Regions from separate parts of the Homo sapiens genome. Here region 2 is linked to region 1. The links come from fine-mapping of genetic effects on gene expression. A gene starts in region 1. The other region holds a variant in brackets. All regions are shown on one strand. Distances are from middle to middle.

Region 1 (5,214 bases):
AAACAGACTCTGTAGCAATAAGATGCCAAATTCCAACTTGACTCTAGTAGAGCATCACATGACAGATAGCTGGCCTTGAAGGAAATCAAAGTGTTTTACCCCAAAATATATTTCTTTGACATATTTTGAAAGGGCCCTGCAAAGCTGTCTCTTGTGGGAGAAATTTACATTCTGTAGGGAATCCCTTGCCCTTCCTTTCCGGGTCTTTTCTGATTCTGAAGAAGTTAATGGTTAACTGAGAGTCTAGCAGCTCTTGTTTTTTTTTTTTTTTTTTTTTTTTTTTAGGAGTCTCGCTGTGTCACCCAGGCTGGAGTGCAGTGGTGTGATCTTGGCTTACTGCAACCTCTGCCTCCCAGGTTCAAGTGATTCTCCTGCCTCAGCCTCCCAAGTACCTGGGACTACAGGTGAGTGCCACCACATCCAGCTAATTTTTGTATTTTTAGTAGAGACAGGGTTTTACCATGTTGGCCAGGATAGTCTTGATCTCTGACCTCGTGATCCGCCCGCCTCGGCCTCCCAAAGTGCTGGGATTACAGGCGTGAGCCACAGCACCCGGCCAAGTCTAGCAGCTTTTTAAGATCTAGATATGAAACATTTGCCATCTATTGCTTCTAATGGTGGCCACCTATGAGGCTTCATCTATGTAATAAGAACGTTGGTCTCCACAACCCCTTTTAACCCAGATGCTCCTTTCTCTCGATTCCAGATCTTTAGATAAGCACTCTTTCAACCAAATGCCAATCAGAAAATCTTTGAATCCACCTGTGAGCTGGAAGCCCCGCTGTGCTTTGTGTTGTCCTGCCTTTTCGGACCAATGTAAATCTCACATGTACTGATTGATGCCTACATCTCCTTAAAACGTATAAAATCAAGCTGTAACCCAACCACCTTGGGCATGTGTTCTGAGGACCTCTTGAGGCTGTGTCACTGGTCATGATCCTTAACCTTGGCAACATAAACTTCTAAACTGATTGAGATCTGTCTCAGACACTTTTTGGTTTACAAAAGGACTAATTCAAATACAGTTTTATCTTCCAACATAAGAAAACCTAGAATGAATGACTCAAAGGTTGTAGAGGGTTAAACAACCTCTCCAACGTGCAAACCTCTGCCTTATAATTCCTAAGTATTTCTGACTGTAGATGGTACTAGGATAGGATCATTTTACCATGGAAATGAAACCCGTGTCCTTTCCTTTGGGTTAATCTTGAATCCCTGGTGAAGTGAAGGCAGTCTCTAAGAGGAGTGCAGTCCATCCAACTGCTGCAGTGCTCCTGTGTACTACTGGGACCATCCCGGAGAGTGGCAGACACGATGCGAACCGTGAAAGGACGCAAAGAGTACAGAGTGCATGCTTCCATCTCTATAGGAAGGTCAGGAACGCTGTTACGGGGAGCAGGGTTAGAATGATGGGGATATAGCCCGGGAAGGGGCAGAGGAGCTTTCTGTGCCACGGGAAATGTCCTAAATCTCAACCAGGACACGGTTAGATAAAAGTGCAAATATGGGTGAAAATTCATTAAAGCTGTATAGTTAAGATTTGTGCACCTCACTGTAAAACTTACTTCAAATGTCTAAAAGACTGGAGTCTGCAGCCACACACTTGAGGAATAACACTTTCCTTAGTCCCAACTCCTGTTTAAGTAAGACAGAGAAAGATTCCACAGTGCGGGTCGGATGTCTTGCGGCTGTAACATGTAGCAGCCTCCAAGCGGAGGTTCTCCCTTCATCGCTGTGTCACCTTAGATGTTTTTCCTTTGTTTAAACACCAAATATTTTAAAAGTTGTTTAGAAATGTGTTATGTGAAACACAAGGTGGTTTAATTGGGACGTCATTTCCTAATTAATAAAATCTAATTTCAGTTTTATTTTGGAAAGGAGGGAGACGGGTGGTGTTTGAAAGGCTGAGAATGTGAAGTGGCTGAAATGAAGGCAGCGCACGACCTGGATGCCAGCGCTGCCCGCCCTGCAAGGAGAGGGCGGAGAGGCCACACGCTTCTCATGCTTCGGGAGTTTCTGTCCATAAATCAGTTTTAGGTACTGGGCCTTTCCTCTTCCGTTGGGAAGTCGGAGGTTCCACATCAGGATTCCAGCAGCTGTAAATCGGTCAAAATAAGGCCAAAGAAAAATAGCTGGCTACAGGCGCATGCGGCCAGGCGTTTTGTTGGCGTTGCCCTTGGTACCGCAGGCACGAGGGACCCACAGGGGACCACCCCGCGGGAGCCCCAAGTAACTGGACGGACGCCAAGTCCCCCAGCCCGCTCGGCCCCAGCTCCACCCGCCCGGGCCGCAGCCCGCACCCCATCGGCCCGCCCCGGGCCAGGAGCATCCCCAGCTCCGGCGTCTGCGGCCTGAACCCGGTAGCGAATTCAAGGTGGAAACCGCCAGCCGGGGCTATCGTTGATTGGCTGAACGAGAGGAAACCCGGCAGTGATTGGTTCGCGCCTTCTTCCGCCTCCGGCCGACTGGGCGGATACGATTGGTGCAGGGGCATCGGCCCGCCCCCATCCTGCTCCGGCCGGCGCGTGGCGTCATTTCCCGGCGTGCAGCGCGCTCGCGCGTCCCCCGCCCGCTAATGTTTTGGCCGCTTCAAGATGGCGGTGCAGGAGTCGGCGGCTCAGTTGTCCATGACCCTGAAGGTCCAGGAGTACCCGACCCTCAAGGTGGGCGCCTGCGCCGCGCAGGCTGAGGGCAGCGAAGGCGTCTCCAGCCAGTGCCCTCGGGCCGCGAGGGGCCGCCCCGGGAGGGCCAGCGGCGAGGGCGGCGGGAGCTGGGCGCGGCCTCGCGGGGCCGTGCGGGCTTCTCAGGGGCGCCCGGTCCGCGCCGGGCAGGTGTGGCGGGGGCGGCGGCTTTGGCCCTGCCAGGCGCCCGACTGTGGCCCCTCTGCTTGAAGAGCTGCGTGAGCCGAGCCAGCGACGACTCTGGCAGCGCTAAGGGTGGCGAATTTGGGGCTGGGGTGGAAGCCGGAGTTTGCGGGGCGTGGGGTCTCTGGCGCCCAGGCAGACGGAGTGCGCGGCGTGCCCAGCCAGTGCCCGGCCGCCCTCCCGGGAGCCCAGGGCTGGGAGGTGCCGGCTGCGCCGGTCGCTAGTTAGGAACTGTAGGGAGAAACCTCACGGCCTGATGGCACCCAGCGACCTTTTTGATGGGCGTCACCAAACCTGAAATACAGCTCTTGCCGTCCGGCTGCCGGTTGCGTGACCTTGGGTGGTCACCTAGCCACGTCGCACTTCTTAGAATGAAATTTGTGCTCCTAGTAGAAGGAGCCGATACTTGTTCTTTACCTAGTTAGTAGAGGATTTGATATGAAGCACCTGGGAAGGAATTCCTTAAAAGATCAAGGTCATAGCTTTCCTAGAGCTGCGGCTGAGCTTCGTGGTTCTGTGTTGCCTTCCTGGAGAGCTGCGTAGTTTCTCTCTCCTCCCAGAGCGCCCTGGTGTTCACGTCCGTCTGAGGACGGACGGTGTGGCGACAGGTGTGGAGGATGCAGTATGGCCAGGTTGCTGTGCGTTCCCCCAGCCCCAGGGCAGTTCAGCGAAGGGCTGAAGAGCACAGGCTGTGAGCCATCCTGCTGGGGTGTGAATCAGGCTTCTCTGTATTCGTCCTTACTGGGAGACATCAGGGCCCGGTTGGTGACTGTTTATTCTTGTCAGGTTTAAGCAGTGGTAGCGCCTGTGTCACCTCAGGGTGAAATGAGTGACCACGTATTGTTTCAAACAGTGCCTAGCATTCATTAAAAGGTCCCTGCTACAGTTAGCGCTGCTGAAGTCAGGCTGTACCCTGCTGTAGCTGGTCTTCATAGGAAAGCAGAAGCAAGCTTCTCCTCCTCTTTATTAACTAGCGGTTTATTTCATATTTTTAAAAAGAAACGGGGTTTCACTGTTGCCTAGGGTGGTTTTGGATTCCAGGACTTAAGCGATCCTCCTGCCTTTTGACCTCCCAAAGCGCTGGGCTGACAGGTGTGAGCCACGCGCCCGCCACACTAATGGTTTCGCAGTGGGGTTTCATGGTGCTTGTGTGTCCAGCACTTCTTTTGATCAAGGAAGGGAGGGCAATGTTGCTGACGTTACCAAAGGTCTAGCCTCTTGCTAGATCCCTCCAAGATGTAGGTGGTTGGTTTTTAATACTCAGTGACATTGGTGGATCTCTGTTGGTTTAGAGATGGAGACCCTGCAGCTGAGAGAAGTCTATACAAGGACATTGTGGTGATATTAGTAGGGAGTCCTAACCACTGACCACTTTGTCTCACGCAGTGCACCTCCAGGCCTGTCATTTCAGCTAACACACAAGAAGGTTTGAAGATCAGAACCGTGGTGGTTTGTCACTTCTGGTACTGGCTGGTGAATGTGGGAAACACTAGATAGGAAAAGTTTCCAGAAATCCTTTCATTGTGTATTGAAGGAACTAGGAAGGGAGATGGAAGGTCTCCGGAAAGGATTCTTCTTCAGGTCTTCTGCTGTTTTGTAATCGTGAATGTAATTTGTATTCCAGAGTGATTGCATAGCTTCTGATTAAAATAGTCATGCAGATAGTCATACAGGTAAAGAAATATTATAGTGTCATAATTTCTCTGTTGACACTTGTGTCACTACTGAGTTAAAACTTTTTTTCATAGAAGTTTTCAGGAGTGATTCCTAGTGGATAATGGAGGTGTTTTGCTGGGAAACTAGGGATCCTTGATTTAGAAGCATTTATTGGTATAGAACTAAACAGAACATGCTGAGCTCACAGCTCAAGAGCTGCACTCTTCAGTTTCCAGGAGGGGCCAGTGCAGATGTCAGAGAAGGGACCGAGGGCTGCAGGACCGGGGTTGTGGAAGGTGGGGGGTGGATGTTCTGCTTCTCTAGTCTGAGAGCAAGTCCTCCTGCAGGGTGGTAGCAGCTGGCATGCTCTGGACTGGATCTTCACCTGGTAATAGTTAAACTGCTTTCCTGCCATGTGAGTCCTCCACAGACTCACAGGGGATTCCTTTCTCTTCAGAGGGCTTGGTAGCCCTAGGTGGGTTTCAGCAGTAACACTTGGGATGTCTGCTTCCTCACAGCGTCAGGGCGGCTGGTGGGGCTCCTGGGTGCCTGGCAGGTACTTATTTTTCTATTTTCCTGGTGAAGTGGGAAGAGAATGGAACAGACGTGAATTGCTGCAGCCAACACGCACTGACCTTGGGCACCTCTGTCGTCATGAGCTTCTATTTCCACCAAAGGGGTGGACCGGCCTGCG
Region 2 (5,214 bases), 130 kb after region 1:
TGCATTATAATACGTAGTTAATTTTTTTACTAATAATATATAAATTCAATAAAACTTTCACCATTGGCATGCACTTTCTGTTGCTTGTTTCATTACATGGCAATTTCTGCCATAATTTTTTTTTCTTTTTAGAGGTAGGCTCACTCTGTCACCCAGGCTGGAGTGCAGGAGAGAGATCTTGGCTCACTGCAGCCTCGACCTTCCAGGCTCAAGGCATCCTCCTGCCTCAGCTTCCCAAAGTGCTGGGCCAATGATAACTTTTGTTTGCTTTTTGAGACAGGGTCTCACTCTGTCGCCCAGGCTGGAGTGCGGTGGCGCAGTCACGGCTCACTGCAGCCTGGAACTCACAGGCTCAAATGATCCTCCCACTTCAGCCTCCTCACTAACTGGAACTACAGAAGCCTCCACCTCACCCAGCAAATTACTGAACTTAATTTTTTTGATGTGCCCTGGGGTCAATACTCGAGATAGGTCCTGGTGGCTGCCTCACCAAAGGATGCCCCATTACGTCAGTCCTCCCAGCCCCTATCCAAGTGCCCATTTGTCATCACACTGAGGAGGCTGTGGGGTGAGGCTCCATGTCTCCTCCTCCACCTCCCCAACACGGCAGATGTGGGAGGCAGCTTAGGGCTGGGGATGAATAAGGGAATGTGAACACAGACACCACCCAGGACCACACCCCGTGATCCCAGCGAGGGGGGCTGGTCGTGACGGTATCTCTTTCCAGCTGTGACGAGGATGCCACCTGGGCTTCCTGCTGACCTGGCCGAACCCTGCCAGGTGTCTGTGAGGACATCCTGCCCTCACAGTGATTGTAGACAACCGTTGCCTTTTCTAGTGATCAAAGTAACACGTGCTCGTGAAAAAGCACAGAGGAGAAGCAGCATCTCCCATAACCCACAGCACAGCGACGGCCCAGCTCACACCTTGCCGTTTTCTGCTTTCCTCTCATCTCGTTTTCTGCTTCCTAAAAACATAAATGTTGGCCGGGTGCTGTGGCTTACGCCTGTAATCCCAGCACTTTGGGAGGCCGAGGCGGGCAGATCACTTGAGATCAGGAGTTCGAGACTAGCCTGACCAATATGGTGAAACCCCATCTCTACTAAAAAAAAAAAAATACAAAATTAGCCGGGTGTGGTGGCGAGTACCTGTAGTCCCAGGTACTCGGGAGGCTGAGGCAGGAGAATTGCTTGAACCCAGAAGGTGGAGGTTGCAGTGAGCCGAGATCTTGCCACTGCACTCCAGCCTGGGTGACAGAGCGAGACTCTGTCTCAAAAAAAAAAAAAAAAACCATAAATGTGGGCGCTGCACCTATAGCCTTGGGCACTTGGATGCTGGCCCCCCCTTGTATCCTAGGCATTTCTCGTTGTCATAGCAGACTTCGTAACACAGGTTCTTACCGGTCCCATAGAACCCTGTCACACGGAGGGCGTGAGCCGTCCATCCGTGTGCCTAGGCAGTCTGGCTTTCTGTGCCTGGAACCACTGCTGTGTAGATTCTTGTTTAGACTTGAGTTCACCTCTAGGAGACACCAGAAGTGATGGGTTGGGTTAAAGGGAGGGAATTCCTAAAGGCTGGGTAACGTCTCCGGCGTCACTGGCATGGGCACCATCTCACAGGGTGGCATCCCCGCCTCCTTCTGTGGCGGTTGCCATTTCTGTGGACACTGGTGAGAAGGAACATTTTCCCTCATGAATATTAGCCACGTAGCTTCTTTTTTTTTGTGAACTTTGTCTTCTTTGTGAGCTCTGTCTTTTTTCCATTTGGTCAGCTATTGAGGTTGTTTTGTGGGTGGCAATAGGTTAAAAAGTAACCTTGGGTTGGGCATGGTGGCTCATGCCTGTAATTTGGGAGGCCGAGGCAGGCGGAGCACCTGAGGTTGGGAGTTCGAGGCCAGCCTGGCCAACCTGGCGAAACCCCGTCTCTACTAAAAATACAAAATTAGCCGGGCGTGGTGGCAGGTGCCTGTAATCCCAGCTACTCGGGAGTCTGAGGCAGGAGAATTGCTTGAGCCTGGGAGGCAGAGGTTGCAGTGAGCTGAGATCGCGCCACTGCACTCCAGCCTGGGCGACAGAGGGAGACTCCATCTCAAAAAAAAAAAAAAAAGTACCCTCTACTATAACATATTTCAAACACACACAAAAATACAGCGCAGAGTAAGATCAGCTTCCTGGGACCTGTCACTCAGATGCAACATCTGTCAACATTTTGGTGTCAATATGGTTTTGTGTATCCAAAGCCACACCTTTATTCTGGAATCTTAAAATATACCTTCAGACATTAAGTTGCTTCACCTGTAAATATTTCAGGCAAGAAAAAGAAATAAAATGTAAACATATTGAAACAGAAAAAATAAAACTAGCCCTGCATACAGACGACATGATTATCTACGTAGAAAATCCCAAGGAAAAAGCACCCAGAATTCATAAGTCAGCAAGGTCAGAGAAAAAGCCTGAAAAAGGTCAATCTAATTTCTATATACCCACGATCA[G/A]TGATTAAATCCTAAAAATTCAAAAACATTTTATAATAGCTCCAGGTTAAGGAAGTTCCTTCCTATTCTTAATTTTCTGAGAAATTTGTAAAATCATTAACAGATGTTGCATTTTATCACATTTTTTTTCCGTATCCATAGGCTCATATGGCTTCTCTCGTTGCGTCTGTTGACATGGTGGATTGTGATGGCTGGCGTTCTCTGTTGAACAGCCTTGTGTTCTCAGGGTAAACCCCACTTGGCCATCATGTGCTCATGCTTTCCATGTTTCTGGATTTGATCGCTAGTGTTTTGTTGAAGATTTCCACATCTATGTGCCTGAGAGGTTTTGTCCTGTAGTTTCTTTTCTTGTGATGACTTTGGTGTTGGTATTAGGGGAATTCTGGCCCTGCGAAATGAGTTGAAAGTGTCACTTCCAGCCGGGCATGGTGGCACATGCCTGTAATCCCAGCACTTTGGGAGGCTGAGGCGAGTGGATCACGAGGCCAGGAGATCGAAACCATCCTGGCTAACATGGTGAAACCCCGTCTCTACTAAAAATACAGAAAATTAGCCGGGCATGATGGCGGGCGCCTGTAGTCCCAGCTAGTCGGGAGGCTGAGGCAGGAGAATGGCCTGAACCTGGGAGGTGGAGCTTGCAGTGAGCCGAGATCGCGCCACTGCACTCCAGCCTGGGCGACAGAGCAAGACTCCAACTCAAAAAAAAGAGAAAAAAATAAAATAAAATAGAAAGTGTCACTTCCACCTCTATTTTTTGATTAAGTTTTGTATAGAATTGGAGTTATTTTTATGTTTAAATATTTCGTAAGATTCACCAGTGAATTTATCTGGACCTGGAGTTTTCTTTTTTGGGAGGTTATTAACTATGGATTCAACTGCTTTAGTGGAGATAGGGCTGTTCAGGTTATTAGTTCTTCTTGAGTGAGTCTTGGTAGTTTGTGGATTTCCAATTGGTCCAGTCATCTGAGGTGCTGAATCCGTGCATGGAATGCTCCTTTGTTATCCTTACAATGCCTGTGGGCTCTGCAGTGACAGCCCCTCTGTTATGCCTGTAATGGGTCACTTGTATCTTCTCTTTCTTTATCAGTTTTACCTATTTTTATTGACTTTTCCAAAGAACCAGCTTCTGATTCCATTGATTTTATCTAATATTTTTGTTTCTATTTTTCTTAACATTTTATTTACTTATGTTTTTTGAGATGGAGTCTCGCTCTGTCACCCAGGCTGGAGTGTAGTGGCGCCATCTCAGCTCACTGCCTCTGTCTCCCAGGTTCAAGTGATTCTTCTGCCTCAGACCCCCAAGTAGCTGGGATTACAGGCATGTGTCACCACACCTGGCTAACTTTTGTATTTTTAATAGAGACGGGGTTTCTGCATGTTGGCCAGGCTAATCTCAAACTCCTGACCTCAAGTGATCCGCCCACCTCAGCCTCCCAAAGTGCTGGGATTACAGGCATGAGCCACTGCACCTGGTTATCTGTTTTTAATTCCACTGACGTCGGTTTTATCTTTACTATTCTTTCCTCTGATTGCTTTGGTTTTCTTTGGCTCTTGTTTGTCTAGTTACCTAAATTAGAAGCTTAGGTTGTCAATGAGATGTTCTAATATAAGCATTTATTGCTAAAAATTTCCCTCTAAGAGCTGCTCTAACTGCATACCAAAAATTTTGATATTTTAAATTTTCATTTGTATTTAGTCCAGAATGCTTTCTAATTTCTTCTAGGAGAACTTCTTTGATCCATGGATTACTTACAAGTGTAATTGTTAATTTCTCAGCCTCTGGGGTTTTAAAGGTATCTTTAGGTCATTCATTTCCAGTTTAAACCCACTATTGTCAAAGAACATGCTTTACATAATTTTAATTCTTCTAAATCTGTTAGTTTTGTTTTATAAGCCAGGATATGGTTTCTCTGGAGAGTTCCATGTGTACATGACAAGAACGTGTGTCCTGCTGCTGTTGGATGGCAGATGCTGTAAATGTCATTTAGAAATTGTTGGCTGATGGTATTGTTCTCCTGTATCCTCCCTCCTTATCTACCTAATTGTTCTGTTGATACTGAGAGGACTGTTGAGGCCCCAGCTAGAGTTGTGAGTCTGTTACTTTTCCTTTCAGTTAAAGGTCTGTTATGAGGGCAATACACGTTTAGGTTTTTATGTCTTCTTGGTGAATTGACCCTTTTGTCATTATGTAATGTCTGTTTACCCCTAATAATTTTTCTCGTTCTGAAGTTGACTTTATCAGATATTGTAGCCATTCCAGCTTTCTTTTGATGAACATTTCCCTGGTATATCTCTTTTATCCTTTAACTTTTAATTTACAAATATAGTCATATATAAAGTGGGTTCTGTGTAGCCAGCATGTAGTGGGATGGATATTTTTTAAAATTCACTGTAACAATCTCTGCCTTTTAATTGGGTATGTTTAGATTACTGACATTTAACATAACTGTGTTTGAGTTTAATTTTGTGGGTACAGAGTATGTGTGTATATTTATGGGGTACATGAGATACTTTGATACAGGCGCGCAAAGCATAAAAATCACATCATGGAGAATGGGACATCCGTCCCCTCAAGCATTTATCCTTTGTGTTACAAACAATCCGATTATACTCTTTTAGGTATCTTTATTTTATTTATTTATTTTTTTTGAGGCAGAGTCTCACTGTCGCCCGGGCTGGAGTGCAGTGGCGCGATCTCGGCTCACTGCAAGCTCCACCCCCTG

The links. PIP is the estimated chance that this variant, and not a neighbour inherited with it, causes the effect.
Region 2: its variant is the best candidate, but not a certain one, in a credible set for the expression of MAEA in whole blood (INTERVAL, PIP 0.56).

The regions. Positions count from the first base shown.
Region 1 is chr4:1,287,320-1,292,533 of GRCh38, forward strand. MAEA (macrophage erythroblast attacher, E3 ubiquitin ligase) reads left to right here and starts at 2,572. Exons shown (of 9, transcript NM_001017405.3): 1 at 2,572-2,663. The coding sequence starts at 2,595. It overlaps LOC105374347 (a long non-coding RNA gene), which reads right to left and starts at 2,252. Exons shown (of 3, transcript XR_925046.3): 1 at 1,566-2,252. It overlaps LOC105374346 (a long non-coding RNA gene), which reads left to right and starts at 284. Exons shown (of 2, transcript XR_925043.3): 1 at 284-404; 2 at 707-975. RefSeq lists silencers at 2,093-2,502, 2,603-2,882, 3,971-4,153.
Region 2 is chr4:1,418,405-1,423,618 of GRCh38, forward strand. No RefSeq gene overlaps it. Among named protein-coding and RNA genes, the nearest start is that of NKX1-1, 15 kb to the left of the region's middle. The variant G/A (reference allele first, on the strand shown) is at 2,492.